Linked DNA regions of Homo sapiens. The protein of the gene in region 3 purifies or fractionates together with the protein of the main gene of each other region. This does not show direct contact. Each region holds a gene or a part of one and is shown on either strand. Other genes may lie near its edges.

The links.
Region 1: the proteins of SCN1A (region 3) and CDC42BPA purify together in Homo sapiens (affinity purification with mass spectrometry, with the first as the bait; one large-scale study listed by BioGRID). This does not show direct contact.
Region 2: the proteins of SCN1A (region 3) and SCN4B purify together in Homo sapiens (affinity purification with western blotting, with the first as the bait; one study listed by BioGRID). This does not show direct contact.
Region 4: the proteins of SCN1A (region 3) and RABL3 purify together in Homo sapiens (affinity purification with mass spectrometry, with the first as the bait; one large-scale study listed by BioGRID). This does not show direct contact.
Region 5: the proteins of SCN1A (region 3) and DHCR24 purify together in Homo sapiens (affinity purification with mass spectrometry, with the first as the bait; one large-scale study listed by BioGRID). This does not show direct contact.
Region 6: the proteins of SCN1A (region 3) and DNAJC16 purify together in Homo sapiens (affinity purification with mass spectrometry, with the first as the bait; one large-scale study listed by BioGRID). This does not show direct contact.

The regions. Positions count from the first base shown.
Region 1 is NC_000001.11:226,988,159-226,993,492, forward strand, and holds the end of CDC42BPA (serine/threonine-protein kinase MRCK alpha), read right to left. Parts: 3' UTR 1,707-5,334; downstream 1-1,706. UniProt on the Homo sapiens protein: Serine/threonine-protein kinase which is an important downstream effector of CDC42 and plays a role in the regulation of cytoskeleton reorganization and cell migration. Regulates actin cytoskeletal reorganization via phosphorylation of PPP1R12C and MYL9/MLC2.
Region 2 is NC_000011.10:118,142,147-118,146,852, forward strand, and holds part of SCN4B (sodium channel regulatory subunit beta-4 isoform 1 precursor), read right to left. Parts: intron 3,288-4,706; exon of another isoform or gene 3,084-3,287; coding exon 2,911-3,083; intron 1,916-2,910; coding exon 1,687-1,915; intron 1-1,686. UniProt on the Homo sapiens protein: Regulatory subunit of multiple voltage-gated sodium (Nav) channels directly mediating the depolarization of excitable membranes.
Region 3 is NC_000002.12:166,124,726-166,130,065, reverse strand, and holds the start of SCN1A (sodium channel protein type 1 subunit alpha), read left to right. Parts: upstream 1-2,045; 5' UTR 2,046-2,295; intron 2,296-3,055; 5' UTR 3,056-3,142; intron 3,143-5,340. UniProt on the Homo sapiens protein: Pore-forming subunit of Nav1.1, a voltage-gated sodium (Nav) channel that directly mediates the depolarizing phase of action potentials in excitable membranes.
Region 4 is NC_000003.12:120,704,027-120,708,732, reverse strand, and holds part of RABL3 (rab-like protein 3), read left to right. Parts: intron 1-2,618; coding exon 2,619-2,733; intron 2,734-4,706. UniProt on the Homo sapiens protein: Required for KRAS signaling regulation and modulation of cell proliferation. Regulator of KRAS prenylation, and probably prenylation of other small GTPases. Required for lymphocyte development and function. Not required for myeloid cell development.
Region 5 is NC_000001.11:54,866,696-54,870,195, forward strand, and holds part of DHCR24 (delta(24)-sterol reductase precursor), read right to left. Parts: intron 1-3,500. UniProt on the Homo sapiens protein: Catalyzes the reduction of the delta-24 double bond of sterol intermediates during cholesterol biosynthesis.
Region 6 is NC_000001.11:15,560,838-15,565,543, reverse strand, and holds part of DNAJC16 (dnaJ homolog subfamily C member 16 isoform 1 precursor), read right to left. Parts: intron 3,403-4,706; coding exon 3,219-3,402; intron 1,616-3,218; coding exon 1,433-1,615; intron 1,262-1,432; coding exon 1,185-1,261; intron 1-1,184. UniProt on the Homo sapiens protein: Plays an important role in regulating the size of autophagosomes during the formation process.

The DNA.
Region 1 (5,334 bases), on a different chromosome or scaffold from region 3:
TGGGCTCCGGGACAGGATGGAGAGGCCTGGGTGGCGTCCGTGAGGCTGCCTGGCTAGCAGCGGCGCCCAGCACCACTGTCAGATCCCTGGCTGAAACTCTTGTGGCCCTCTTCTTAAGGGTATTTGCTGTTGTCTAGCAAACTCCTCTGCAGCACTCAGATCTGAAGCCATCGCCCTGCAGAGTAAACAGCAGGGGAAGAACCCAGGCCAGCCCCAGCCAGGGCTCTCACAGTCTCCTCTTCCTCTTGAACAACAAGCCAAACAAGTCAAGCAGCAGCATGCGGGGGGAAGGGAGAGGAGAACAACAGCAGCCAGCATTTGCTTCCCCAGGAACCACGACCATAACTGCTGGAACAGGAGAAGTTTTCTAAGGGAAAACTGGAATGTGGTTTGTGTGTCCTAAGTCTGAGAGCCGGCTGAGAACTAGAGCCCTCCCTGTGAAGACAGTGGGGATCACTGGATTGCAAATGACTTTAATCCCCAAGTAAAGCTGGCTCTGAAGCTGGCCACACATACTTATTCTTTTGTACCTATTTTGATTTTTACAGTATTGTGATGAATGACTCCCCGTGCTCACCCATTCACACTGAGACATGGGGCATGAGAACATGGCAAATCATGGCTTGATTTTCCCAGGGTCTGTGTCTTCGTGTCCCTAACATCTAGTGAAGGGCTGGACACCACACAACAAAAAAATATTTGTTACTGTAGGCTTTGGCGGTTACTCATAAGGACAAAACACTAAACCATAGGCTAGAAGTTAGATTCTGAGTGCATTAACTCCTGACACTCCAAGTGGGCCTTTTTACAGAGGGAAAAAAAAAAAAAGAGGCCCAGAGGTTAAGTGGCAGAATGAGGATTTGGAACAAGACAGTCTAGTCTTACAGTCTACACTAAGGGGACCAAACGAAGGGCTGGCAAACTATGATGGTCCAAGGGCCAAATCTGGCCCACTGCATTTTTGTAAGTTTTATTGGGGCACAGCCACTCTCGTTTATGTACGTAGCAGGCTAAGACTGTTTTTGCACTGAAATGCCAGAGCCGGGGAGCTGCAGCAAACTATATACACAAAGGCACAAGGATTTCTTAACTGGTCCTGGACAGAAAAGGGTTGCCAAGCCCTGTTCTAAAGCACTGCACAGCTGACACTACAGTAAACCAACATAACAGTATCAGCCACAAATGTCAATTCCATGGGCCATTGGAACCGGAAGTATTCTCCGAATAACTACTTAGCTGCCACCAGTTCAGGAGTTCCTTTAACCCCACCCCTGGACCTTCCCTGTATGTTCTTAGATGAACCATTCTAACTCCAGAAAAGCAGTAACAGTCCGTCTTGTTTAAGTGACACAAAATCAAACTGCTCCCACATTCACACTGTCAGGGCCACTCAGGAAACCTCACGCAGCCAGGGTTTGGTCTTGTGGACCGAAGTAACAGCAACAGCGAAGTTCTGGCCAGAAGAGGGGAGTTGAAAGCTTCAGGAGAATTGAACATCATTCTTACCCGAGCTAAGGAAGAAATTAAGAAAGTCCTAGATTAAACCACAGGGGCAAACTAACCCCATGTCCTTTTACGGCATAAAGAAGCAGCCTGGATGAGGAAGGAGGCCAGCAGAAAGAAGAGAAGTGACAGGCGGAGAGGTGGCACCTTTCTCTATTTCTCAGACTTTCAAGTGGGGGGAAAAGAGACAAAATACTCAATGCTAACAGTTCTCTGTTTTATTGCAATACAGCAAAGTCTGGTTAATATTAAGTGATATCAACATAAAGTATTGGTGAGGAGTCTTTTGTGACATTTTTTACCATCCCACCTTAAATATTTCTGTGCAAAAGAATCCACATCATTGTTTGGTAGCAGAGGATCTCTTAAAAAGTTCCCTAAGACACTGAGGGCATAAAACCAAACAAAATAAAATAAGGAGTGATAGGCTAAAGCAGTATCTTCCCCTCCATCCACATTTGTCAGCATTATATTCTAACCAAAAAATGATCACACCAGGCCATGCAAAACTGTACAATATTACGAGAAAAACCCTAAAAAATTTATAAAATGAATGATATTACACTATCAAATAAAAAGACAAGTCATTTTGTTTTCATGAGATTTCAAGGTTGATTTGAGTCAGCTTCCCCCGGAACTGCACGGTGTCCTGTGTGGGGAGGGCCCAGCGTGCTGCCAGTGCTGGGGGGCAGGGCTTACACTCCTTATCTAGCAGAAGTGCACAGAGAACTCTGGACTTGAGTAACAAAGTCATAAGGAAAGAGATTTTAAAATGGGCTCCATGAAATGCAGCTCATCTAGTTCAGGGCTGGGCCAGAGAGACGGGGGAGTGGAGTGCCCAATTCATTCCCTGTTGTGCTCACCAGACATGGGCTACGGCAAAGTCTGCTCTGAGCGCCCCTCTGTCTAGATTGGATGGGGAGCCTTAGGCTTGGCAAGGCCTACCTGCTGGGAGACTGCAGTGGTTGTGATCCCGGCCAAAGGCGGCAAATGGCCCTGCTGCGTCTGTGGTTTTGACCTCTGCTCACCCCTGCTCTGGCTTTTCCTTAATGATACCTGAGATGCCACATAAATGTAACCAGTCTTTCTCAGAAATAGACGTGGCCACTAAGTAACAAAATGACATAATTCTAACCTATGGAAGGAGAGAGAGGCTGAGAGCTAGCCAGGAATGATAGATTGTTGCTGTAAACATGACAGGAATTTCAGATTCTCCCCTGAAATGTGAGTACAATAATTGGCTGGAAAACCAAATAGATGGGCTCCTTTTAGTTGTATCTCATAGCCTTAAAGCTGTGCTCCCTAGGAAATAACAGAAATCACTAAGTGTGTTGGGGATGTGTATAAATACATACATAATAACAAAAAATGTAAGATCTACTTTAGCAATCATTTGACAAGAAGCAAGACTTTTGTTTTTGGCAAAAAGAATATATATGTATGTAATTTTAAATACCCAAAGCACAAACATGATTAGTCAGAATTTGAGGGTAGATAACTTGGCTGGACATAGATAGCACCAAATACTAACACAGATAGACTATCCCAGAAATGCCTCTGAATGTATTTTTTCTATTGAGAAACAGGTTTCTGCTGCCATATACGTTTTTAAAATGTCCTGCATGAAAACAAAAGAAAACTTCAGATAGTAATAAAATACTTTATCTGTGAGCTGTGCTACTGACTCCTCTGAATGGTCATTATGTTTTCTTTGCCTAGAACCCACTCCCTGTCTTTTCACATCATTCTTCTCAGAAGCTTCTGGAGGTAACAGGCTTCATATTTAAGGGTGGGATAAACCCAGTAGGATGACCGTTATTTTGGGAAAACCCTCCCCAAAACTATTCCCCCTGGCAGTGTTTCTCTCCTAAAGCCCTGCTTTTAGAATCTGCACGCATTCGGGACTGCTCTATTATGACTGATGAGATTACTTGCCATTGCAGTGGAAAAATCAAAGAGTGCCATGGTGCAATCCATGGGGTGAATATGGACAAGTCGCCCAGTTAGCCTGGCAACCTAGACAAGCCTCAGTAGCTCTCTCTCTCTGCCCTGTTGGGAGGCTGAAGAGTATGACCCATAGCAGTGGAGCTAGACTTTAGGTAGGGTTATTATTTTGATCTTAAAAGCATCCTTTGCAAAATAAGCACCTATAAGCAACAAAAATTCATAATTACTTGTCAAAGCTACAAACTAATGGCTTATGTCAAGTCCTGTTAATCTCGGCTTGGGATGGCCTCCTCCCTGCCTGAGAAGAGAAGGGAGAGAGGAGAAGGCAAGGGGAAAGGGAAGAGGAGGATGGGGAGGGTGGGGATGGGGAGGGTGGGAAGAGTGAGGAGGAGAGGAGGGGAGGGTGGGGAGAGTGAGGAGGGTGGGGAGAGTGAGGAGGGTGGGGAGAGTGGGGAGGAGAGGAGAGAAGGGTGGACAGAAGGGGTGCGAGCTGGTCACGAGCACCAAGCAGGGGGCCGGCTGGCTGACTCCCTTCTCTCACGTGAGGTGCTGAGGACAAGGATCTACCAAGTCATATGACAATGATCCAACTAAAGGGCCAACCCTTGGTATTCAGGTGAGAAAAGTATTTTTATACTTCATTCTAAAAAGCAGAAAGATTTGGGAGATTAGAACTGTGCTGTGAATTACACCCATCCAAAATAAAATATAATCAAATCTGAGCTGGCACCAAACTCAGAATGTTTAAATGTCAAAGCTGTTACATGAAAATTCCCGATTATAGGTGCTTACAATGGAATCCCCAGCAGGATCCTTTCTTCCCTCACTGCATCTCAGAACCTTCTCCACACAGCAGCATCACCTGGAAACAGCCTCAGCTCCCTGCACATGCCGCAGGCCAGCATGGTGGCCACCTCAGTGACACGCAGGTCACCTCAGTGACACAGACGTGGAGTCACAGACAGCAGCAGTGAAATGATGGCCTTAAACACTGCAACTCAGGTTAGCAACTGCAGGAAAACTTTCTTCATTTTCACTGAATTTTAAAGAGAGAATCCTGTCTCTATTTCTCAGAGAAACTTAGGTGAAAAGTAAAAGAGAGGCAAAATCTCTTTCCTTCATGAGATACTTTTATTTTTATCTCTTTCTCTACTCATGTGCTTAACTGGTGAAATGATTCTGTAGAAATAGATCCTTCTGATTCTGCATCTCATTTCCTTATGGCAACTACAACAGGAGGAATCCAGCTGGAAATGCCACTAACCCCACAATCCAGCACCTGAGAGAGGAAGCCAGTCGGAGCGCCGTGCTGGGCTCACTCACTCTGGCCTGCGCACTGGGGTTGTCACATCCATTTTCCACTGGCTATGGGGAATAATATTTGGTTAAGGCTGTTGAAGCCCTTGCTTTTGAGGTTTTACATTATTTGGTAATGAAAGCCGTTTTTTCTTCCTTCCCCAGGCTTATGTGAAGAAGCCCACGCCCACTCTCAACAAAACAGACTCCTCCTTGGGAAGCATCTCCAGCCCTGGGACAGACACCTCGCTGTGACTTAGGGAGGGACAGGATTAGCCCAGGAATAAAAGCATTTTTAGAAATTGTTTTCTGCACCTTCAGAAGCTACAACACTCCTTGTAACCTTTCAGATGGAAGGGATCAGAGGTGACAGAATCGTGTATTTCTACATTTATCTGCGGAAGATAAAATACAATAAAAAGTGAGAAGTGTTCAAATTCCACCACTAGGAAAAGAAACATCTTGGGTAGAGATGAGTTCGCCTTTTGCTGCTGCTGCTGAAGTGGCTTCAAATGTTAAAGCTCTGGTGCCCAGGGCATGCCCCAAACCAGCAAAACCTGGCTCTGCAAGTGTTTTCTACAGCTCCCC
Region 2 (4,706 bases), on a different chromosome or scaffold from region 3:
ATCTATTCTTGGCATAGGGGCCTGAGTGAACCTGTTCAGGCCCTAACTCCTCTGCTCCCAGTGGCTCCCACCTCACTCACCCTTCCAGCAGGGTGATTACACAATCTGGCTTGACCTGACTCATCTCTCACTCCTTGCCCTGCTCCAGCACTAGCCTGCTGTGATTCTTCACGCATCTGCCTCAAGGCCTTTGCACTCACTGTTCCCTCCCTATCTTCCCAAAGATGCCCTCATGGCTCCTCTCTCACCTCCTTCAAATATCCCCACTCTATCGCCTTTTCCAGAGAGCCCTTCCCTATTCACCCTGCTGGCACCCCATCTTTCTTTCCTGCTTTATTTTTTCTTCTTAACACTAGCCATGTTCTCTTTTACAATATCATTTTTCTTCTTTATTTTCTATTGGTATCTCCATACACAGAAGAGGAGGAAGGTAATCTCCATAAAGGCAGGAATTTGTCTATCTTGTTCATATCACATCCTCGGAATCTAGAATAACGTCTGCCCCATACAAGGTGCTCAGTAAATATTTGTTGAACAGATGGATGAATGAATCCATACAGATGGAGAGACGATCCACCTCAAGGGAGCTGGTGAGGAGCAAAGGAGCTAAAATCAATGACAGCAACTAACTCGGGATCTGGCACCCAGAAAACGCTCCACAAATGCCCGTTCTCTTCCTTCTGAAAAGGCTGAGTACAAGCTGGGTGACAGAAGCCCAGACAGAAAGGAAGAGGTGACACCATAGGCAGACCTATGACTCCAGGCTCAGAAAAGCTGATTGGATAACCTCTGGCTCCGCCCTTGCATACTCGAGATTGAACTCACGGGTGTCTCCCTCTCCAGGGACTCAGTGTCATCCAGGAGAGCAGCAAACTCCCGGTACACACAAAATGCAGCAGAGTCAGGATCCTTGCGCAAGTCCCCTTCCCTTTTTCTCTCTGCTTCTGCACTTCCCTAGTCTTCCAGGCCCCTCCCCTCAGTGGGGCCATGCCTCACTTCTCCAGCCCTGGTTATCATATCCTCCTTCTCTAACCACACCAGGTCTGGTCAGGGACCACCTGGCTCCTTTTCATATGCACCCTCCTTGTATGATTGGTCCTCCTGTGTCAGACTGGAATCCTAGGTAGGATGTAAGCCCCCAGAGGACAAGGGCCATGTCTTACTCCATCTCTGTTGTTTTCACCTCTACTGACAGATGTATGCATCATGTTCTGCCCATTCTAGCTATTTATTTATCTTCTGTCCTACCTTGTACTGTGAATTCCTCAAGGAAGAATGTAATGTATCACTCATAGCACTTTTTAGTCCAATGCCTGACATTCAATCAATTTTTGCTAATGGAATACCCAATGGTATTAATAATCAGTATATACGGAGAAAACCCTACTAGCCACAAAACACTACCAGGTAGCTTCTCTAACCACAACTCTAGGAAAATGAAGCCATATTCCCATTTTACAGATGAGGAAAACGAGGCTTAGAGAGTATTTCATAAGCTATTTGGTAGCAGAATAAGTGTTCAAGCTGAGCTCTTCTAGCTTTTAGATGTAACTCCAGCAGCTCTGGAAAGTGTAAAGCAAAAGAAAACACCAACACGGTCCATTTTGCCATTTCACTGTGATGCTGAGTTGGGTGCCTCCCAAGTCCTTCCCACGCCACTGCCCTGTGCCAGCCCCTACTGCATACGTCTATCAACGACTTGGAGGAAGATGGTGGCGTGGTGCTGGAGATTATTCTCCTTGGGGTTCTTCACATGGCAGGTGTATTTGCCCGTGTCGCTGAACTCCAGGTCCCTCAGCACAATGGAAATGTTGTTCATCTTCTCCTTAGTAGAGCCTACCAGAGTGATGCGGTCATCGTCTTTCAACGTCACCTTGGGGTCAGACTTCTCATTCTTCACAGTCCCCTCTATGAGCTGGTGGAGGAAGGGAGTTGGGGTGAGAAAGTAGCCGAGAAAGAATCGGGGTCCTCAAGGGTCATGACATCACACCAGCCCACTCCTTGGATGCCTCCCCTGTCCAGGACCAGGAAGAGCCTGTAGTCACGCCCTGCTCCTTCCCCCCATGGTTTCCTCTTCCAGCGTCAATAGCTCTGCCTGTCTAACCTGAATTTTACTTGTTTCAGGCTAAACCCATTTCCTTTTATTAAGGTCTCCCTGGAATGCAGCACAGCTCTTACTGCTCTCTTCATAAAAGCCTTTTACCTAATGACTCCTGCAAGCACCGCACTCATCTCCCTCTGTCACCTCCCACCCAGCCTTTGCTGACACCATGTCACCTGCCCAACTGAATTTTGGCCCCCTGTCAAGACCTGGATCAATCCCACAGCTCTGCCCGTCAGCACCCTCTGAGGTCAGCATTTAATTATAACCAGAGTTGGTCTCTTGTGGCTTCCCTGTGAAAGTCTCAGGTTGGATCCCCCACTAGATTGTAGAGTGAGTACAATCTAGTGAGTTCACTCCCACCCCCACCGCAGCCGCGCCAATGCTCCTGCAGCTCTCCCTCTCTTCCTCTCTCTTTTCCCTGCCAGTCCAGCTTCTCAGCCCTTCCCTCATTCAGACTCTTCTCATTCCTTCTCTCCAAGCTTTCCAAGGCCTTTCTCTCTCCTGTTTCTTAGACTAAACTATTGATTTTTAGACAAGCAATCCAAGCTCCGGGTGTTTCTTAAGACCAGACAGAGGACTCTAGCCAAGAATTCCAACAGTCCCCGAATTCTGGCAACACGATCTAAGCATCTCTCCCAGTTACATCCTTCCTGGCAGGCTCTGAAAAGAATACTGGGAGAAAGGGTGGCAAAAGGTGGGTTCTGGGGACCATCGCAGTGGGTCTCAGTCCAGAAGGGACCAGAGCGTAGGAGGCGAGGCATGGGTGAGGGAGGCTGGGCTGTACTGTTCTTCCTCCAAATACTTACAATCTTGAATGCGTCACTGCTGTTGTAGGTCCACCGGAAGTGGAGGTCCTCGAAGCCAAAGCAGCTGGAGAAGGTGCAGGGCAGCAGGATCTCCGTGCCATTGACAGCGTAGATGTCGGTGGCCTTTCCCACAGACACCTCCAGCGACAGGGTTACGGGGAGCAGGAAGAGGCCTGTGTAAGGAGCACCGCCTCCCTTAATAAAACCCCACCAGCCTGGAGCTCTGGAAGGGGATGCTTAGGCAGGGCGGAGTAGCTTGGCCAGGCAGGTAGGTCTCTATCACCCTCAGTGCCAACCTCGGGAGGATGGCTGTCTACTCCAATCAGCACCGCCTGGGCCACCCTCCATCATTCTCCATTTCTCCCCTGGAAAGGACTGAATTCTGGACCAGGGAGTAGCCCTTGTTGCGCTCTGGATGACCACCAGGGGTCACCCCAACCCAAGGAAACAAAGGCCTGGCCACTGCCGCGAACCGCGCCCCGGCTCCGCCCCTCACCTGGGGACGCAGTGCCTGGAAGCGCTCCTGCCGCACCCACTCCAGGACGCGCAGGGCGGGCTCCCTTCTGTTTGCAGGGGAATTCCCCTAGGACAGTACGCGCCTCTCGCCAGGTTTTCAGGACTGACGGGCGGGGCGGTCGAGGAGGGGGAAGAGCCGGGTCCCGTAAGGTGAAGAAGAGAAACGCGGCCGCCGCAGTCCCGGGCCGCCGTCCAGTAGCCTCTCGTTCCCCCGCCCTGGAGGCTCCTCCCTGGTCCCCAGGGGCAGAGAGGCAGAAGGACACGTTCGGGCTGGACCTCGCTGGGCCAGCCGAGTCCGACGCCCTCTGGCCGCCAAACGGGACCCTGGGAACCGCAGGAAGACGGCCTGGCAGGGGGGAACACGGCGGGGGTGGGGACCGACGCGGGGCTTGGAGCTTGGCAGCCGCGGGGGCGCGCGGGCGCAGCCAGGGTGGGAAAGTCAGTGGCAGAAGACACCCTGGGGAGGGATTCCGGGCCAGCCCGAGTGCACGCGCGCGGGGGCGGGACGGGGAGGGCGCTGGACCCGCGGTCCCCTCCTGAGCCCTGCAGCCCGGCCTTCTCGCCACACTCCGCCCCCTCGTCCCCGAGCGCCCCCAGGCTTCTTTCTCACGCTTCGAACCTCCGCCCCAGCACTCCGATGCGGCCCCCTCCGCTGGGACTAGGCCTCTCCACTCACGGCCTCCAAACTCCCGCTCCGGAGTCCTTGTAAGGGGGCCTGGTTCCCCGCCACCCCGCCCCACACACACACCCACCCCCAGTCCTGCAGATGCCCCAAGGAAACCCCACTCGCCTCAAGGTCGGTGGAGGCGGGGGCGGGGAGGGTGTCTGGAAGTGGATGCCTGCCTCACCTCCTCCCTAGAGGACACTGGCACCTTCCAACCCCACTCTCAGGAAGGCCCTCTGTTGTCTAACTTAATTCCCTGTTCTGCATCATAAACCTCTTGTTTTGCCCCCACCGGATGATAATGCGTCTGAGCAATGCTTTTCAAATGACAGAAAAGGATCTCCAAGGACAGCAGGCAGCCCTGCTTGCTCAGCTTCTTCCTGTGCCCTTAGCTTCTGATGACAAAGTGAAGTGCTTATATCCCCCAGCCCTAAAATCACACCCCGTGGTCCAGTAACCCCATCGTGATTCGGCCATTGTCGCTAACAATAGTACTAGCTGATATTAACTGAGCATCTACTATGTGCCAGGCACATTTCATCCTCACGGCCTGTCCTATGAGTCACGTACTATTATAGGTCCACATTGTAGGTGAGACAACTGAGCCTAGAGAGGT
Region 3 (5,340 bases):
GTCTTTTGTCACTTCTTCCTCCACATCTGTGTGGCTGGCTGCTATTTCAGTATCCTGGTCCACCTGGTCCTGAGTCCCCATGGTGAGGGAAAGCTGACTCCATAGCTGCCAGAATCACATGTAGTGGCTCTCTTTGACCAGGTCAGCTGCGTAGATACCCTCTCTTGCTCCAGTCCTCTGTAGCAAGAGGGTAGGTTTACCACTAAGGATCAGGGGAGAAGAACTATTGGGGGAATTGTTAAGAGCAGACACTCAGAAAAATTGGCACCTATAATATGCAATTAGAATTCATTAAAACATGTGGCCAGGTATGTTCTTATTTTGTGTTTTTACATATCTAATCTCTAAGTACTATTCATATGGAATGTATTATTCTAAAAAAATTGCCTGTTAGTTCATGCAGTTCCCACTCTCTTTTCATCTCTAACATCTTGGCAATCGTTTACCAGTTGTTGATCACCTGTCTCCTCATCTTCTTTCAACTTTGCCCTGACTCTACCAGATACTGGGCAACATCATTTCCCAGACATTGAGTAACTTCAAATGAATGTGTTCATGCTACTCCAACTGGCTTTTGGGAAAGCACTGGATAGAGTTTTTGAGCTGGAACAGGAAATTATCTTACTTAATTTCTTTCTTTTATAGATAAAAAGATGGATCCACAAGATGGACCCATTGGTCCATAATTAAGGGCTAGTAAATGTTTTGTAAACATAGAAATCAAAATTACTTTTCTGTGATTCTAGAACAGGAAAAAATGGTGAACTTTTAGGTATGTTGCAAAGAACAGTGGATTATTCTTTGGGCTCTTGGGACCAACAGCCTTAGTTTTATTGCTTTGCAAGCTATGTGGTCTTGAATAAACCTCAGTAAGGCTCAGAAAGCTTCAGTGTTCTCAAGTATAAATAGGAATAATTATAATATAATAACATTAATAGTATTTATCTCACCATCCTGTAATAAGGAAGAGAAGGATTAAATATTGAAGGTTATATTGATAAATGATAAAACACATGCAATGATTGTAATAAGTGTGTTAGATGGCAAAAGAAAAATAATGAGGATGAAATATTTACTTCCAATGACTAATCTACACATAATCGTGATTTTATGTATGACTGAATGTTTAAGGCTGATTCCATTTTAGAATACAATATATAACATAAAAAGCTCTACTCTCAGTTCCAAGAGTTATAATTAGTTTGGCATGGATTTTTATTGTCTTAGAAAAAACTGATATTCATGGTTTTTATAATTCTATCTTTGGGTAATAGGCAATTGGACTCTCTTTCTATATATATTTGCTTATTAAAATGTGTTATTATAATTAAGCTTTAGGCTGTGTCCACAAGATGGGAAAACATTGGAGTAAAATATAGTAAAACCATAGAAATTGAGAGTGGGTTGAAAGTCTTGTTTAATCTGTAATTACAGATGAAGATAGTAAGAATGTAAATGTCCATAGAAGACTTCAGTGGCTTTGTTAAAGGCATGTGTTCATCAGTGTTGAAGTAAAACTCACATTTTGTGACTCTGAGCTGTTCACTATAATATGAAACCTAATCCTAAAACACAATATTAAAACAGAAAAATGTGAAGCCATAGATCTGTAATAAAGGGCCACCTGATTGTTTCCTGGTGGAATAAAAAGACAGTTTTATTTATAAGATATATCATTTTTATAGATAACAATGATTCATATTAGGAATAAAGTAACAGTTTCAAACTAAAATAATGCTAAAGTTTTTCAAGTACTACTTGAAAATAGCTATATTTACTTTCAAACCTTTTCCTCTTTGAGTCATTAGGTTCATGATATTATATAGCAATAGGGAATGAAAGAGAAGCAAGGAGAAGCAATACTGGGAGATTACAGAGAAGAAAGGAAAAAAGGCTGAGAGAAAAGAGGTTGAGGAAGAAATCATAAATCTGGATTGTGAGAAAGTGTTTAATATTTAGCCACTAGATGGCGATGTAATGTAAGGTGCTGTCTTGACTTTTTTTTTTTTTTTTTGAAACAAGCTATTTGCTGATTTGTATTAGGTACCATAGAGTGAGGCGAGGATGAAGCCGAGAGGATACTGCAGAGGTCTCTGGTGCATGTGTGTATGTGTGCGTTTGTGTGTGTTTGTGTGTCTGTGTGTTCTGCCCCAGTGAGACTGCAGCCCTTGTAAATACTTTGACACCTTTTGCAAGAAGGAATCTGAACAATTGCAACTGAAGGCACATTGTTATCATCTCGTCTTTGGGTGATGCTGTTCCTCACTGCAGATGGATAATTTTCCTTTTAATCAGGTAAGCCATCTAATTGTTTCATCTTGATTTTAAGTTTATTCATTCCAGTTATTCCTTTGGAAAAAGAGTCCATGGAAATTCAGTTTGGGCAGAGCAGGAAGTCCATTTTTGTATGTGTATTCAGACCAACTGTCCCCCTCCTCCCTCTCCTCCTCTTCTCCTCCCCTCCCCTCCCCCCTCCTCTCTCAACCTTCCATGAACTGAAATCAGGTTTGTTTTGCAGTTCAGCATTTTGATAGAAGATGGGATTCTTTGGCCTGAAATAGCTTGGCATCTGGCCAGTTCTTGCCTTTGCTTGCCTTCATCCTATTCAAGGTCCCTTTTGATCCTGTTGAAGCCCCCTCCTTCACTGGTGCTTTGGAAGTGGACTAGCTGGCTGGGAATAGAGGTCATATTGTTCTTAAGGACGGAGCAAAAATTAGATCTCAGTTTTAACTCCACAGGAAGAAAGAAGGCAGCGGGGCTGCTGCTGGAGCCTAGCATTGCAGGGGTATTCAGCTTCCTGAGGCTGAGGCTGGGCTTTTGAGAAGAAATGCCTCATGCCTTGAACAAGGAAGGGGCAATGATTTCCGCCCCCCACCTCTGCCAACTCCTATTGAGCCACACTAAAAAAGAGCTTGAGCAGAGTGGTAAAGAGTCCCCTTTTCTATCCAATGCCAAATAGGAAACATTGACTTACTTTTACTTAGACAGAGGTCACAACCAGCAATGATACTGCAGATACTGCTCAGTTCCTAGTGTGAACCGTCTTGCTTTTCAGAACAGCATAAGAATTATTTCTGAGTGGAGGTGAGGCTTGTCCAAATGTCTTTGCTATCATGGATTTCCTGACTCCTACCTGTTTGAGGTATGTGTTTAAAGACCCGACCCACTTGCTGCATTTACTTCTCATTTCTTTTTGTTCTCTTTGATTACTCACTGGTGATTGTTAACAAATCGGTCTGGAGTGGTGGGTATGTGCTTTTCACCTGTCCAATGCAACAATTAAGTCAAGGCAGGGTATATTACTGTCAATATGTGCATGTGACTAAATATTTCTGAGTGCAGTAGCAAACTTGCAAATTGCCAATTGCTGTTGCTATCACACCTATAAAATGTGTCTTCTTCTTCTATGGATTTACAGGTTCACGTGGTATTTCTGATGCGCTAGTATAGTAACAGAACATATTTCTCCAAAAAGCACTTTAAATCATCCCAAGAGGATGTTGCCAGACAGAAATAGGAAAATTCCATGCTGAGGTTGGTGATTCCTGCTTTAGTTTCTCCTGCCCAGAGAAGTGGGTAGCTTACCTTTCCTATTTGCTGCAATACCTGGCACGCCAGGGTGATGCAACTGGGAGCTTCTGCACGTTCGCGGGGCATCTGACATTCTTCTTTCCCTCAGCTGTGCATTTCAGGAGAATGACTGTGGTGAAAAACTCTTTTAAAACTCTCTTTTATGATTGTTGCTTTTGTAATTGCAATGAAGCAATTACAAAATCACATCTCTCTTCTAGGAGGAGTTTTGCAATTTAGGCCTTCCTTCACAAAGCTCCTGGAAGAGATTTTTAGCTGGTGTCTATTTTAGGAACATAATGTGTAGACAGGAATGAATGGCCACAGAGATTTACGGGAAACCAATTTCTTGGAGAGGGTGAGGTAACATTATAAACCACTAGAACAGAGCACAAGTGGCTGGTTATATCACATGGACCCAGCAATGGAATTAGTTTTCATTAAACTCACTGTAACTCATTTGTGTGGCTGTTTTTCCTCCTTCCTTCACATTGTTTGTCTGTTTTGTTTCAAATATCTATATAGGAGGCCAGGATACCCAGAGTGTTCATACTGGTAACAATAACACATTGGATTTTGCTGCCAATACTAATAGACTTGGTTTACATGCCCCCTCTTGCTGGGAAATGTGCTGTCTGGAGAGTCATTTATTATGGTAATTTCTCTTTAAGACATGGCAGGAGGGATTGTCCATCTATGGGCTGGGGCAAGGCGGGGCACAATTGGAGGCCTAGTTAATTATACAGTATTCAAGAAGGCACTAAGGAGCTCAGTCAGGATTCTGTTGTACCAACCAGAGATACCAGGGGCAACCAGACCGACTAGATACCCAAAGTAAACTCTATCACCACCAACAGAGGAATCCAGTAAGAAACATTCTAGTTCCTTGTATAGAGGGTACTATCAGGGAATCCAGACAATCAGAGAGGGTAAACACAAGAGCACCTCATCTGGGAATTGCTGACGAAGAAGAGAAAATCTGGGGCTTGCTTGGTGTTACCTCTAGGACGTCACCAACCAGGCATTTCTCAAGGGTTTATGTCGGTGTGAGCCTGACAGTGACACACAAAAGCATCCCTCCAAAATTTAGCCTGGGGACCTTGAAAGGTATTGCTTTCTCCCTGGGCAGTTGGAGAGGCTGAACCTACTATTTTCTCCCTGTACTCGCCAAAGGGCACAAAGCCTACTCTCTTCCAGCTACCTCAGAATGGGGAGGGTGGGAGAAACAGATCCCAGAGAAGGATGGGAGAGAATCAGCAATTGAAGGTCCTGTATAGTCACCCTCAGGGTCAATGGGGCTGTGCTCCGTGAGGTTATCACTTCCTTTTTAAATTCTAATTAGTGAATGAAGCATGTTCCACCGCTCAATTGAGATTGCATTAGTTTAGGGTAGGGTGGGAAGAAATTTATTCTCATTGCACTTGTGATCAGAAAAATAAGTTGTGACAGAATTCCCCAAGCTGCCCCAAAGTTTGCTTTTCCAACTTTTAAATTTTGTCCACATTCCTAGATTTCCATTTATTAATTGTTTTATTTATCAAAAACATATAGCATTTACTCTGTGCCAGCCACTATCCTAAGCAGTACTTTGCAAATATGATCTCATTTAATCCTATGAGGTAGATACTATTGTTAATTTTACAGGTGACAAAACCAAGGCACAGTGAGGTTCAATTAACTTGCTGGGTTATACAGTTAGTAAGTGGCAGAATCCAAGCAGTCCAGCCACACCGTGGCCATGGCGTCTGTGTTCTTGATGTTTGCTCATCA
Region 4 (4,706 bases), on a different chromosome or scaffold from region 3:
CCTTGATATATGCCATCATCATGCAAAAAGGTATATACAATGGTATATATGAATAGAATGCATATAAATAAGAAAAACAACAATAAGACTAAGTATAGTGTGAGGTGACCTCTTAGAGAAGGAAGTGAAACCTAGTTTAGACTTATACTAGAGTGATCAACTTGTATCAGTAAAATTACTTGTCAAATTAAGATATCTATCTGATCTGGCACAGAGAAGTCTGAATATATAACACCTTTGATATTTAGGTATTTTTGAGACAGAGGTACAATAAAAATTATGAATAAATAATAGAGATAAATACCACTCAAATCCTAGAAGCTATGGAATTCTGAGTTGTAAACTTGTAAGTGCTGAAGAAGAAATCCATCTAATCTATATTTGTTTATCTTTTCTGTACCTACTATTCATTAGTGATTTGTCTCCTTTAATATTATTGAAAGAATTGCATATATCCTATGTTGATTTTGCAGATAAGACTGAAATATATTTCCATTTCTTAAAAGTAAAAAAAAAAAACTGCATTTATTGAAAAACCTATTTCTGTGTTCTTTCACCTTAGCTCTGGAACATTCTTCCTGGTAGAAGCACTCAAAGTTCTTTATTCCATCTACTATCCTTAGTTTCCTAAGAAACTGAACATAAGGATCACTCTATCCAAATGCACAGTCCATATTCTTAGCGATAACTTTCTTCCCTTAATACCCTACATTCTTCCCTCTCTAATAGCCTAGGCTAGTAATCCTTCAGAAGGAAATAATGAAGTGTCTTTACTTCTCTCCCTTAAGATTAAGATATATTATCATATCACCCTGACTCCTTTCATCTCAGCCCCACCTTGATTCTTCTAGCACATGTTCTACAAAGCAATAACTCTCAGCCCAAATGAAAGAGAAAGAATAGGGGAAAAGGGTACTCAAATGCCCTTAAAAGCTCAAAAGTCTTACCTAAAGATCCTCAGTAAAGTCTTCCCTGTCCATCTAATAGCCAACTTAGGCCTTTGTAATTCTTTTACTCCCCCGTCCAAAATTCTCACCCATAGTTTTGCCATATTTATAGCCTGGGGAAAAGGAAAGGGAGAAAATATATGCCAGTTTTTTGCCCTAAAATGGAGATTTTATTCTGCTTACCACCAGTCTTTACTGTCAGATTACCTGAGTGCAAATTCTGACTTACCATGTGCCCAAGGACAAGTTACTCTACTTCTCTGAACTTTAGTTTTCTCTTGTGTATAAAGATAATAATAATTCTTCATAGGACTGTTCTGAAAATTAAATTAGATAACACATGTAAAGCACAATATTTAGTACATTAGTACTGAATAAATATTAGCTGTAGTCTTTAATGGTGGTTCTTTATTCCTTTTTTTAAATCTGTGCCACTGATGCTGATTAAAACCCCTCATTGAGGAAGGAAGAGTGGGTACAATTGGATATTAGGGCAAGTGTCAGATCTCTATTAGTTTCAGACACCAGAAGAGATGCAGGTTTATCTAAGCTGGCTGGAACAAGTCAGCTATAGCTTGTACAAGCCCTTTAGTTACACAGATGGCTATAAAAACTGTAGAAGCCAGCTAATTCTACCTCTTCTGCTTTTCTTTTTCAAATTGACACATACCACCTCTTGAAGATGGAGGAATCATTGGTTTCATGTCCTATTCACAATCTGGGTAATATAGAAAAGGGTTGGGAGTTTGAAACCTGTAGTGTTTTGACCATAAGGTGATATCCTAAATTCTAGTGGGCATCAAAGTTTTTCCTCTTTTGTCTATATCTTGCTGTAATAATTAATTCCCTGATTTTCCTTTCTATCTAGGATTTTAATTGATTCTCTTCAGTTGTATTTTAGTGTATTTCTGGGCCTCGTTACATTTTGTTATTTTTCTCAATCTATCAAAATCCGTGCATGTACTTTCTACTATCCATACTTCTTTACTATTTAATGTCTCACCCACTCTCTTATAGTGGCATATTTCTTTTGCTCTAATAACTAAATCTCTTACAGGTAGGAAGCTTACATAACTAATCATTATTCAAAGAACTAGAAAATTAGACATTTGAATAGATTAGTCTCAGATGATCTACAGGACACTATTTTGTCAGCTAAAGAATAGCAATTGTATCAAATCAGTACTATTTTAGTAGATTTTCATTACCTAATATTACTTTTAGTGAGTATAAGTAATATATGTATGTACTGGTATCTATGGCAGTACTGTGTACAGTGAAGAAACAACATAACTTTTTGAATGAATAATTTCATATGTACTTGAAGTAGTTTTGATTCTCTTGATTAATAAAGTGGTTCTACAGGTAGGAACAGGCATGGAGTAGGCACTCAGGAAGTGTTGAATGAAGTAAAGATCTGCTAAAAGTTTAATGGGATTTCGTCAGCCCTTGTAAAATAAAGAGTTATAAAACTGACAGAGAAAGGTTTATGGCTATTTATAAATATTTGTAGAGAAAATTTTAAAATAATTGTCTCTGAGTTGTTAGTCATACTAGAATGCTAGATTCATTAAGCAACCTAATGCTTCTGTTTACTAAGCTTCATTTGGCCAATTGTGAAATGAAGAGGAATTGTTAAGGGATTAACATTGTTTTCTCTGATTATTTTAGGTATTATTTTCGTACACGACTTAACAAATAAGAAGTCCTCCCAAAACTTGCGTCGTTGGTCATTGGAAGCTCTCAACAGGGATTTGGTGCCAACTGGAGTCTTGGTGACAAATGGGTGAGCCAATTTCACAATTGGTTTGAAAGATTGTAGCAATCACAGGAATGTACTTCCCTGAATAACACTTTGTAAAATGTTTGATTTGCAAAGATTTTTCTTTCAGTGTATAGATTATCTTTTCCTTTTAACAGTATCTTTCACAAAGCAATAGTTTTCATTTTGATGAAGTCTGATTACTCTTCTTTTCTTCTATGGATTGTGCTTTTGATATCATGTCTCAGAACTCTTTGCCTAATCCTAGATGATGCAGGTTTTCTCTTATGTTTTCCTCTACAGATTTTATGGTTTTACATTTTTATAGTAAAACATTTATATAAAACATTTTAAGTTTTATAGGTTTGCATTTAGATTTATGATCTAAGTTAGTTTTGTACGAGATGGGAGGTTTTGGTTGAGGTTAACGTTTGCATATGAATGTCTAACTATTCCAGCACCATTTATTGAAAAGATATCCTTTCTCCATTGAATTGCTTTTGCTCCTTTGCCAAAAATCAGTTGACCATATTAGTATGAGTCAACTTCTGGACTCTAGTTCTGTTCCATTGATCTATGTGTCTGTCCCTTCACCAGTACTACGCTGTCTTAATTATAGTCTTAAAATTGAGCAGTATGATTCCTTCTACTTTATTCTTTTTCATAATTGTTTAGCTATTATAGTTTATTTGTTTTTCCACATGAATTTTTAGAATCAGCTTGTCTATATTGACAAAAATTTTGGTTGGATTTTTATTAGAATTGCATTGAACCTATTGATCACATTGGAGAGAATTAACATCTTTATTCTGTTGCATCTTCCAGTTCATGAACACAATATATCTCTAAATTTATTTAGATCTTCTTTTATTTCTCTTACCAGCATTGTGTAGTTTTCAGCATACAAATCCTGTGCATGTTTTATTAGATTTATACCAAAATATTTAATATTTTTTAAGCTATTGTAAATTGTTTTTTTGTTTTGTTTTGTTTTGTTTTGAGACTGAGCCTTGCTCTGTTGCCAGGCTGGAGTGCAGTAGCACGATCTCAGTTCACTGCAACCTCTGTCTCCCAGGTTCAAGCAATTATTGTGCCTCGGCCTCCCAAGTAGCTGGGATACCTGGCTGATTTTTGTATTTTTGGCAGAGACAGGGTTTCACCATCTTGGCAAGGCTGATCTCGAATTCCTGACCTCAGGTGATCCACCTGCCTTGGCCTCCCAAAGTGCTGGGTTACAGGCATGAGCCACCATACCTGGCCATAAATGGTATATTTAAACTTCAGTTTCAAATTTTCCATTGCTAGTATAAAAAAAAATAGAATTGATTCTGAGTGCTGACCTGTATCTTGTGACCAGAGTTTTTTAGTACAATCCTTAGGATGCTCTACATAGACAGGTTTATTTCTTCCTTTTCAATCTGTGTGCTTGTTGTCTTATTTCTTGCCTTTTCGCACTGGCAGCAACTTCCAAAAGGGTACTAACTAGGAGTGATAAGAGTGAATATCTATGTCTTACTCCAATCTTAGGGGGAAAGCATTCATTTCACTATTAAGTATGATGTCAGCTTTAGGTTTTTTTTGTTGACATCATTTATCAGGTTGAGAACATTTCTTTCTATCCCTAATTTGCTGATAGTTTTGTTAATATCATGAACAGATACTGAATTCTGTCAAAAGCCTTTTCTGCATCAATTGATATGGACATGTGGCTGCTTCTTTAGGCTGTCAGTATGGTGGATTACGTTCACTGATTTTCAATACTGGTGGATTACATTCACTGATTTTCAAATATTGAACCAGCCTTCCATTCCTTGGTCATGGTGTATTATTCATTTTATGTGTTGCTGGATTTGATTTGCTAATATTTTGTTGAGGATTTTTATCCATGTTCATGACAGGCATTGGTGTGTAGTTTTCTGTTCTCATAATGTCTTTGACTGGTTTTGGTGTGAGGATAATGTTGGCCTCATAGAATTAATTGGAAGTATTCCTTCCTC
Region 5 (3,500 bases), on a different chromosome or scaffold from region 3:
TGGATCTCTGGCCTCCAGCACTTGCAGCTTATCTGTGTGCCACCCGCTTGTGCAGGCCCACCCTGCTGGTAAGGCCACCCTGCTGGTGAGGCCACTCTGCAGGGAGGAAACTGGGGCTAAAGAGCCTCTTTGCCCAAATTAGTTTTGGTGTGGATGGTATGGGGCAGCGCAAAAAACACTCACGCTGGCCTCTGCCTGCTAATGTGAACAGGGGAACCCAGCAGGAAACAGAGCAACCTGATCTAACCCCAGGTGAGGTGTGTCACATACCTGGCAGTGGCAGCAGCTGCATAATGAAAGTGAGACTTAGGGCCACCTGGATACAGGCGCTCCTGGTGCTCACTGATGCATCAGGAGCCATGCAGAGAAGCCCAGGACATGGGAAAGAACCCAGATAGTCTGTCTTTTCCAGGCACACACCAGCTGAGGAGGCCAGGTGGCTGCATGAGCTCCAGTCCACCCCAGCCCTTGACTGCAAGCCACTTCCTATCTCTGGGCCTCCTCTGTGAAATGGGGGTAGGCTGCTTCTCACAGGATTGCAGCAATGTTTACACGGGGCAGTGCCTGCAGAGGGCCCATCACAGGGCCTGGCACACAGGGACAAATTCCTGAATGCTTAGAAACAGAAATGTTTGGAAGCAATGCTTCTAAAATGAAATGCCCAGATGTCTAATGGCATCCACCACTCTGCCCCAGCCCTGTTCCCTCAGGTATCAGGGTCTTGCTCACTGGGGCACTTGGCAAATATCCCTCTGCTGCTGATTCTGGGAGGGCCTTTGGGTAAGGCTCTCTGTGCCTCACAGTCTTCTCCTTGGGAAATAAGGGAATCAGATCAGGTCTCCAAATATTTCAAAAGCTGGGCAAACCCCTCTGCCAAATCATAATCTTAGGGAGCATCTAATACATCAAATGGATGGCAGCAGAGCCACTTTGGGTACAGTGGGGGTGGTGACTCCCCTTGGTCCCATCCCTCCTCAGCTTTCCTACCCCTGAGAGCCTCAAGGGAACACCTCAGAGCAGCTGGAAAGCTCTGGTCTAGATGTCCTTGCTAGGTGACTTGGTGCTAGGTGACACACACTGTCTGAGCTTTGGCCTCAGGCAGATCCAGGGGCCCAGGAGGGCCAGAGCACTTCAGCTCAATGTCCGGTATTGCCACCGCTGTTCCAGGACCTCCAGCACTTACCGCAGTGTCCCACAGGGAGCAATGTTTGCATAGTGCTAAAGTCTGCAGGCTGATATGTCAGGGAACCGACACTGAACCAGGAGTCAGAAGCTGGAATTTAAATCTGTTCTGTGCTAGCTGTGTGTCTTCAGAGAAGTCTCTTTCCCTTTCTGGGCCTCATTTCCTTATTTGTAGAGAGGATTGTACCGGATGATTTTATAGCCCTTCACAACTTTAAAATGTTTTAAGTATGTATATAGGTATAGATTAAGAGTCTTAAGGGATGCCTATCCTTTGATCTGCGATTTTATGTTAAGATATTACTCCAATTGGCCGGGCGCAGTGGCTCACGCCCGTAATCCCAACACTTTGGGAGGCCGAGGTGGGTGGATCACGAGGTCAGGAGATCGAGACAATCCTGGCTAACACAGTGAAACCCCATCTCTACTAAAAATACAAAAAATTAGCCGGGCGTGGTGGTGGGCGCCTGTAGTCCCAGCTACTTGGGAGGCTGAGGCAGGAGAATGGCGTGAACCTGGGAGGTGGAGCTTGCAGTGAGCCGAGATCCCGCCACTGCACTCCAGCCTGGGTGACAGAGCGAGACTCTGTCTCAAAAAAAAACAAAAGATATTACTCAAATTACAGACAAAAGATGTTCATTGCTCCATTAATTAAAGTAATAAAAAAATTGGAAGCAACTTAAATTTCCAACTATGGGCAGCAATAGGGCATTCATTTCCTCAGTGCAAGGTGCAATGCAAGGTTGGCCATTCTAATTGGGATTCTTTAATTCTAATAAGAATGGACATTAACAGTGATGGTTATGAAGGCAATGTAATAGTTCTAATAAAAGATGGATATTAACAATGACGGTTATGAAGGCAATGTAACAACAGGGGGAAATGCTTATCACAATAAACAAGAAAAAGGCTGGGTGCAGTGGGTCACGCCTGTAATCCCAGCATTTTGGGAGGCCGAGGCAGGCGATCACCTGAGCTCAGAAGTTCAAGACCAACCTGGGCAACATGGCGAAACCCCGTCTCTACTAAAAATACCAAAATCAGCCAGGTGCAGTGGCATGCGCCTGTATTCCCAGCTACTCGGGAGGCTGAGACAGGAGAATTGCTTGAGCCTGGGAGGTGGAGGTTGCAGTGAGCCAAGATCGCACCATTGCACTCCAGTCTGGGTGACAGAGTGAGACCTTGTCTCAAAACAAAAAACAATAAACAAGAAAAGACAAATGTGAACCAAGTGATCACTGCTGAAGACAAACAAACTGCAAAATGCTGCAAAGAGAGGCTCACCCTCACAAGTGATCCAAGAACTGCAAAATAAAACGAGATACTATTTTTAACGCTATCAGATTGGCAAAAATGAAAGAGTGATCCTATTTAGTGTTGGCAAGAATGTAGGGAAAAAGGTGTTCTCACAGACCATTACTACAAGTAGGCATAAACACAGCTCTTCTCGAGGGCTGTTTGGTCATATCTATTAATATTTAATGTGCTCAAACCTTTGTGTAACAAAGTCCATTTTTCTGACTCAATCCTACACAAATATTTGTACAGAAGGACAGGATAAATGTGAGTCTTAAATCTTCAATGCAATCTTATTTGTAAGAGCAAAACAGTTTATGCAACATAAATGTCAGTAAGGGCTAAATTAGGCCAATTATTTACATGCAAAAATGGGATATTACAGAATGAAATGAAGACATGCACACATACATATACACACACACACACACAGAGAAATAGGTCTCGGCTGGGTGTGGTGGCTCACACCTGTAATCCCAGTACTTTGGGAGGCTGAGGTGGGAAGACTGCTTGAGGCCAGGAGTTCAAGACTAGCCTTGGCAACATAGCAAGACCCCATCCCTACAAAAAAATTTTAAAAATTAAAAAATTAACCAGGCCGGGCACAGTGGCTCGCACCTGTAATCCCAGCACTTGGCTTGGGAGGCCAAGGCAGGCAGATCACCTGAGGTCAGGAGTTCGAGACCAGCCTAGCCAACACGGTGAACTCCATTTCTACTAAAAATACAAAAATTAGGCAGGCATGGTGGTGCATGCCTGTAATCCCAGCTACTTACGAGGCTGAGGCATGAGAATCGTGTGAACCTGGGAGACAGAGGTTGCAGTGAGCTGAGATCACGCGCTGCACTCCAGCCTGAGCGACGGAGTGAGACTCCATCTCAAAAAAAAAAAAAAAATTTTTAACTGGACATGGTGGCACACGCCTGTAGTCCCAGCTACTTAGGAGGCTAAGGCAGGAGGATTGCTTGAGCCCTGGAGTTCAAGGCTACAGTGAGCTGTGATCGTACCACTGTACTCCAGTC
Region 6 (4,706 bases), on a different chromosome or scaffold from region 3:
AGATGTAGCCCAGAGGGGTGGAGTAGGGAGATAAAATTGATCTTTCAAGATTTCATCTAGGACTGGTGTTCTGAAATTTTATGTACCTACCAACACCCATCAAAGGCTGTCATTTGTCAGGTGCTGTGTTGGGTGCCAGGAATCACAAACACGAATGAGATGTGGTTCTGTCCTTCAGGGGCTCATGGTCTCATCAGTAGGTGGGAGTGGGTATCCCTCTTGAGGTTAATTCACTCATTCCTTTTACATCTATACACTGGACTCCACGTGTGTCAGGCCCTGTGCTGGGCACCAGAGGTTCCCTGATGAAGAGACAGTCCCAGGCTCTGCTGCCCAGAATGGCAGCCATGGGTGATCCTTTCCTAGCCAGTGGGAAAGGGTCAGTCAGCCAATATAAAAAAAGGGAAGTGGCCGGGCATGGTGGCACACGCCTGTAATCCCAGCACTTTGGGAGGCTGAGGTGGGTGGATCACCTGAGGTCAGGAGTTCGAGACCAGCCTTACCAACATGGTGAAACACTGTCTCTACTAAACATACAAAAATTAGCTGGGCATGGTGGTGGGTGCCTGTAATCTCAGCTTCTCGGGAGGCTGAGACAGGAGAATCGCTTGAACCTGGGAGGCAGAGGTTGCAGTGAGCTGAGATCGTGCCACTGCATTCCAGTCTGAGTGACAGAGTGAGACTCTGTCTCAAAAAAAAATAAAAAATAAAAAATGTCCGGGAGCAGTGGTTCACACCTGTAAGCCCAGCACTTTGGGAGGCCGAGGCGGGTGGATCACCTGAGGTCAGGAGTTTGAGACCAGCCTGACCAACATGGTGAAACCCTATCTCTACTAAAAATACAAAAATTAGCCAGGCATGGTGACAGGTGCCTGTAATCCCAGCTACTCAGGAGGCTGAGGCAGGAGAATTGCTTGAACCTGGGAGGCGGAGGTTGCAGTGATCCCCAGATTGAGCCTGGGGGACAAGAGCAAGACTTTGTCTCAAAAAAAAAAAAAGTAAAAAATAAAAAAAAGGGAAGTTACTGAAAGAAAGAAAAAGGGGAATAGAAAATGTGTAAACGTTCTTCCACTTGCCCCATCAAGTGTACCTTGAAATTTAATAATGATGAACTCTTTTCAAAAGAAAAACAGTGATATCAGTATTAACAGAGAAAAAGAAATTCAGCCTGGCAATATCCCTACCAGTTGTTGTGAAAAATGCTATCCCAGCAGTCTGAGATGTAGTCAGAAGCAGAGTAGAACCATCGAAGGAGAAAAACCTATGTAGAGAGAAAATGGATGATGGTCAGGACTAAAGCCGGAAGGGAGAGTCCCTCTACCCTGCAACACAGTGCTGCTGCTGGACCTCTGCTCTGAGCAGAAATCCGCCACCAGCACTGTGTACTCACAAGCCCTCCTGGTGTCCCACCCTTCCCAGCCCCGATGCTCACAGGGGCAAGTTCATCGGTCAGGTCAGGAAGCACTGCTTCAGAGGACAGAAGAGCTGGATCTTTACGCAGCTGGTCGAGATAGCCCAAGAGGATAAATTTGTCACTCTCACTCCCAATCCAAGGGTCTTCCAGGGTTTTATACACCACCCTTCCTGCTGTGTTGCGCCTTTCTAAAATAGACACCTGGAAGAAAAGTAGAGAAAAAACATCAGAAGTTTCAAAAGCATGGTTAAGTTACAGTTGTTTGCTTTTTTTTTTTTTTTTGACGGAGTCTTGCTTTGTCGCCCAGGCTGGAGTGCAGTGGCGTGATCTTGGCTCACTGCAAGCTCCGCCTCCCGGGTTCACGCCATTCTCCTGGCTCAGCCTTCCCAAGTGGCTGGGACTAGAGGCACCTGCCACCATGCCTGGCTAATTTTTGGTATTTTTTTTTTTTTTTTTTTTTTTTTTTAGTAGAGATGGGGTTTCACCATGCTAGCCAGGATGGTCTCGATCTCCTGACCTCGTGATCTGCCTGCCTTGGCCTCCCAAAGTGCTGGGATTACAGCTGTGAGCCACCACACTTGGCCCAGTTGTTTGTTTTTTGAGACAGAGTTTCGCCCTTGTCTCCCAGGCTGGAGTGCAATGGTGCGATCTTGGCTCACTGCAACCTCTGCCTCCCAGGTTCAAGCAATTCTCGTGCCTCAGCCTGCTGAGTAGTTGGGACTACAGACAGGTGTGCACCACACCAGCTAATTTTTGTATTTTTAGTAGAGATGAGGTTTCACCATGTTGATTAGGCTGGTCTCAAACTCCTAGCCTCAAGTGATCCACCCGCCTCGGCCTCCCAAAGTGCTGGGATTATAGGTGTGAGCCACCGCGTTCGGCCTAAGAAATAACTTTTATGGTGACTTTCCTAAGCTTTTGTTAAAAGTTAAAGCTCTTTTTTCTCAATAGACTTTGCTCTATAACCTTGACTTAATATTAATGGAAACCTTTGTTTTTTAGAGAGATTTTCCATGATTGCGAAAATGATGAAAAGTCAGAGGAGAATTTCTTGTTTCTGTAGGAAGTGATGACAATGCAGGAGAAAGGCAGGAGAGATCAACCAGGATGAAGTTAAAGAGGCAGAGGGGGGCAGAAATTTCCAGAGCACATTACCAGTGGCCTAAGGATTTGTAAAATCTAGGATCTAGGATGCTGCAAGACCAGACTTGCCTTAGTAAAAAACTGGTGAAAAGCACTGATGACCTTTACCGTTCACTGATAGAAAACATGGTTTCTGTGGGGGCCTGAGGCTGACATCCAGAATGTAAAAAGACCAGGTCAAAAACTGTTTTAAGAGTAGGCTTTAGGCCAGGAGCAGTGGCTCATGCCTGTAATCCCAGCACTTTGGGAGGCGGGAGGATTGCCTGAGCTCGGGAGTTTGAGACCAACCTGGGCAACATGTCGAAACCCTATCTCTACAAAAAAATACAAAAAATTAGCCAGGCGTGGTTGTGTGTGCCTGTGGTCCCAGCTATGTGGGAGGCTGAGGTGGGAGGATCACTTGAGCCTGGGAGGTCGAGGCTGTAATGAGCTGAGATCATGTCACTGCACTCCCAGCCTGGGAGACAGAGTGAGACCCTGTCTCAAAAGAAAAAAAAAAAAATCAAGAAAAAGGAAAAACAAAAGAGTAGACTTTGAAAATAGGCTTCAGAGTTTCAGATTTCCTAGAATCTGTATTCAACACTCTCAAGGAAGAAGGAAACAGAATCAAGTGCCACATGGTTATGAAGAGCCTGGGATGAGGAGAGACTCTGTGGCTTACCGCTGATTTCCCTTGAAACGCCTCACTGTCTGGTAGTAAGGTGTCGGCAAACTCCTGCTGCCGATTGCTGTAGACATGCACAAATCTCACTGTGTCTTGAGTGTTTGCCAGGGCAAAGGACAGGAAAGCCTCAAAGGGTTTGCTCAACTTGGTAGTCTCAGCAGTCAATAAAACCACACAGTACCTGCACAACAAAAAGACAAAACTTTATAACCAATCCCTGATGGCAGGGCCAGCACCTATAATGGCAAGTGAAGGTGAAGAAGACGAGGAGCTCATCTTATGGAAGTGAATACACTGTGCCCAGTGAAAGCTGACATTTCAACTAAGGGAGGATTTCCAAGTCATTAACAAACTGTTTCTCTTCCCAATCTGTGATGTTTTTCCCAAACCAAACTTCTTTACCACATTTACGAATTTTAAAATTTTATATATATGAAATTTTATATATATGAAAACTATATATATATAGTTTTGTTTATATTGCCCAGGCTGGTCTTGAACTCCTGGCCTCAGACAATCCTCCTACCTCAGGCTCCCAAAGTGTTGGGATTACTGGCATGAGCCATCGTGCCTGCCAGGAATTTAAGGGGTTGGTCACTGAATCTCTGATGCAGCAGGGCCTTTCATTTTATTTTTTGAGATGGAGTCTTGCTCTGTCGCCCAGGCTGGAGAGTGTAGTGGTGTGATCTCGGCTCACTGTAACTCCGCCTCCTGAGTTCAAACCATTCTCCTGCCTCAGCCTCCCAAGTAGCTGGGATTATAGGCGTGCACCACCTCACCCAACTAGTTTTTGTATTTTTAGTAGAGACGGGTTTTCACTATGTTGGCCAGGCTGGTCTCAAACTCCTGACCTCAAGTGATCCGCCTGCCTCAGCCCCCCAAAGTGCTGGGATTATAGGCGTGAGCCACTGTTCCTGGCCGGCAGGGCCTTTTAGAAACTATTTGTCCTAGTTCTTCCAGTATAGGGAGGGCTGGTCAAATCTCTCTCAGGCCAGAGGCCACTGAGCCTCATTCTGAACGGCTTCCTTTGCAAGGTTCCAATGGAAAGTTTAGCTATTCATTCTCCCAAAAATATTTACTGAGCACTTAGTATATGTCAGGTAATATAGACAATATTATTGCCCTCATGGAGCTTATATTCCAGTGGGGAAGACAGAAAACAGATATATTATGACAGGTATCAACAAGTGCTATATATTAAAAAAAAAAAAAAAGATGAAAAGGGGACAGAGAGAGGCCAGAGTGGGTAGAAGCCAGGCTCCATCAGACAGGTTGGTCAGGGAAGTGCCAACTGAAAAGGTGACATTGTTATGACAGGAAATGGGGTCAGAGCATCCCAGGTAGAGAGACTACAAGTGCAAAGACCCCAGGATGGGGAGTGACTGGATCTGATTTGCATTTTCAAACATTATTGGCTGACGTGTGGACATCTGCCTGGAGGGTACAAGAGTGGAATGGAGCAGAGAGACTAGTTAGAAGGCTGCC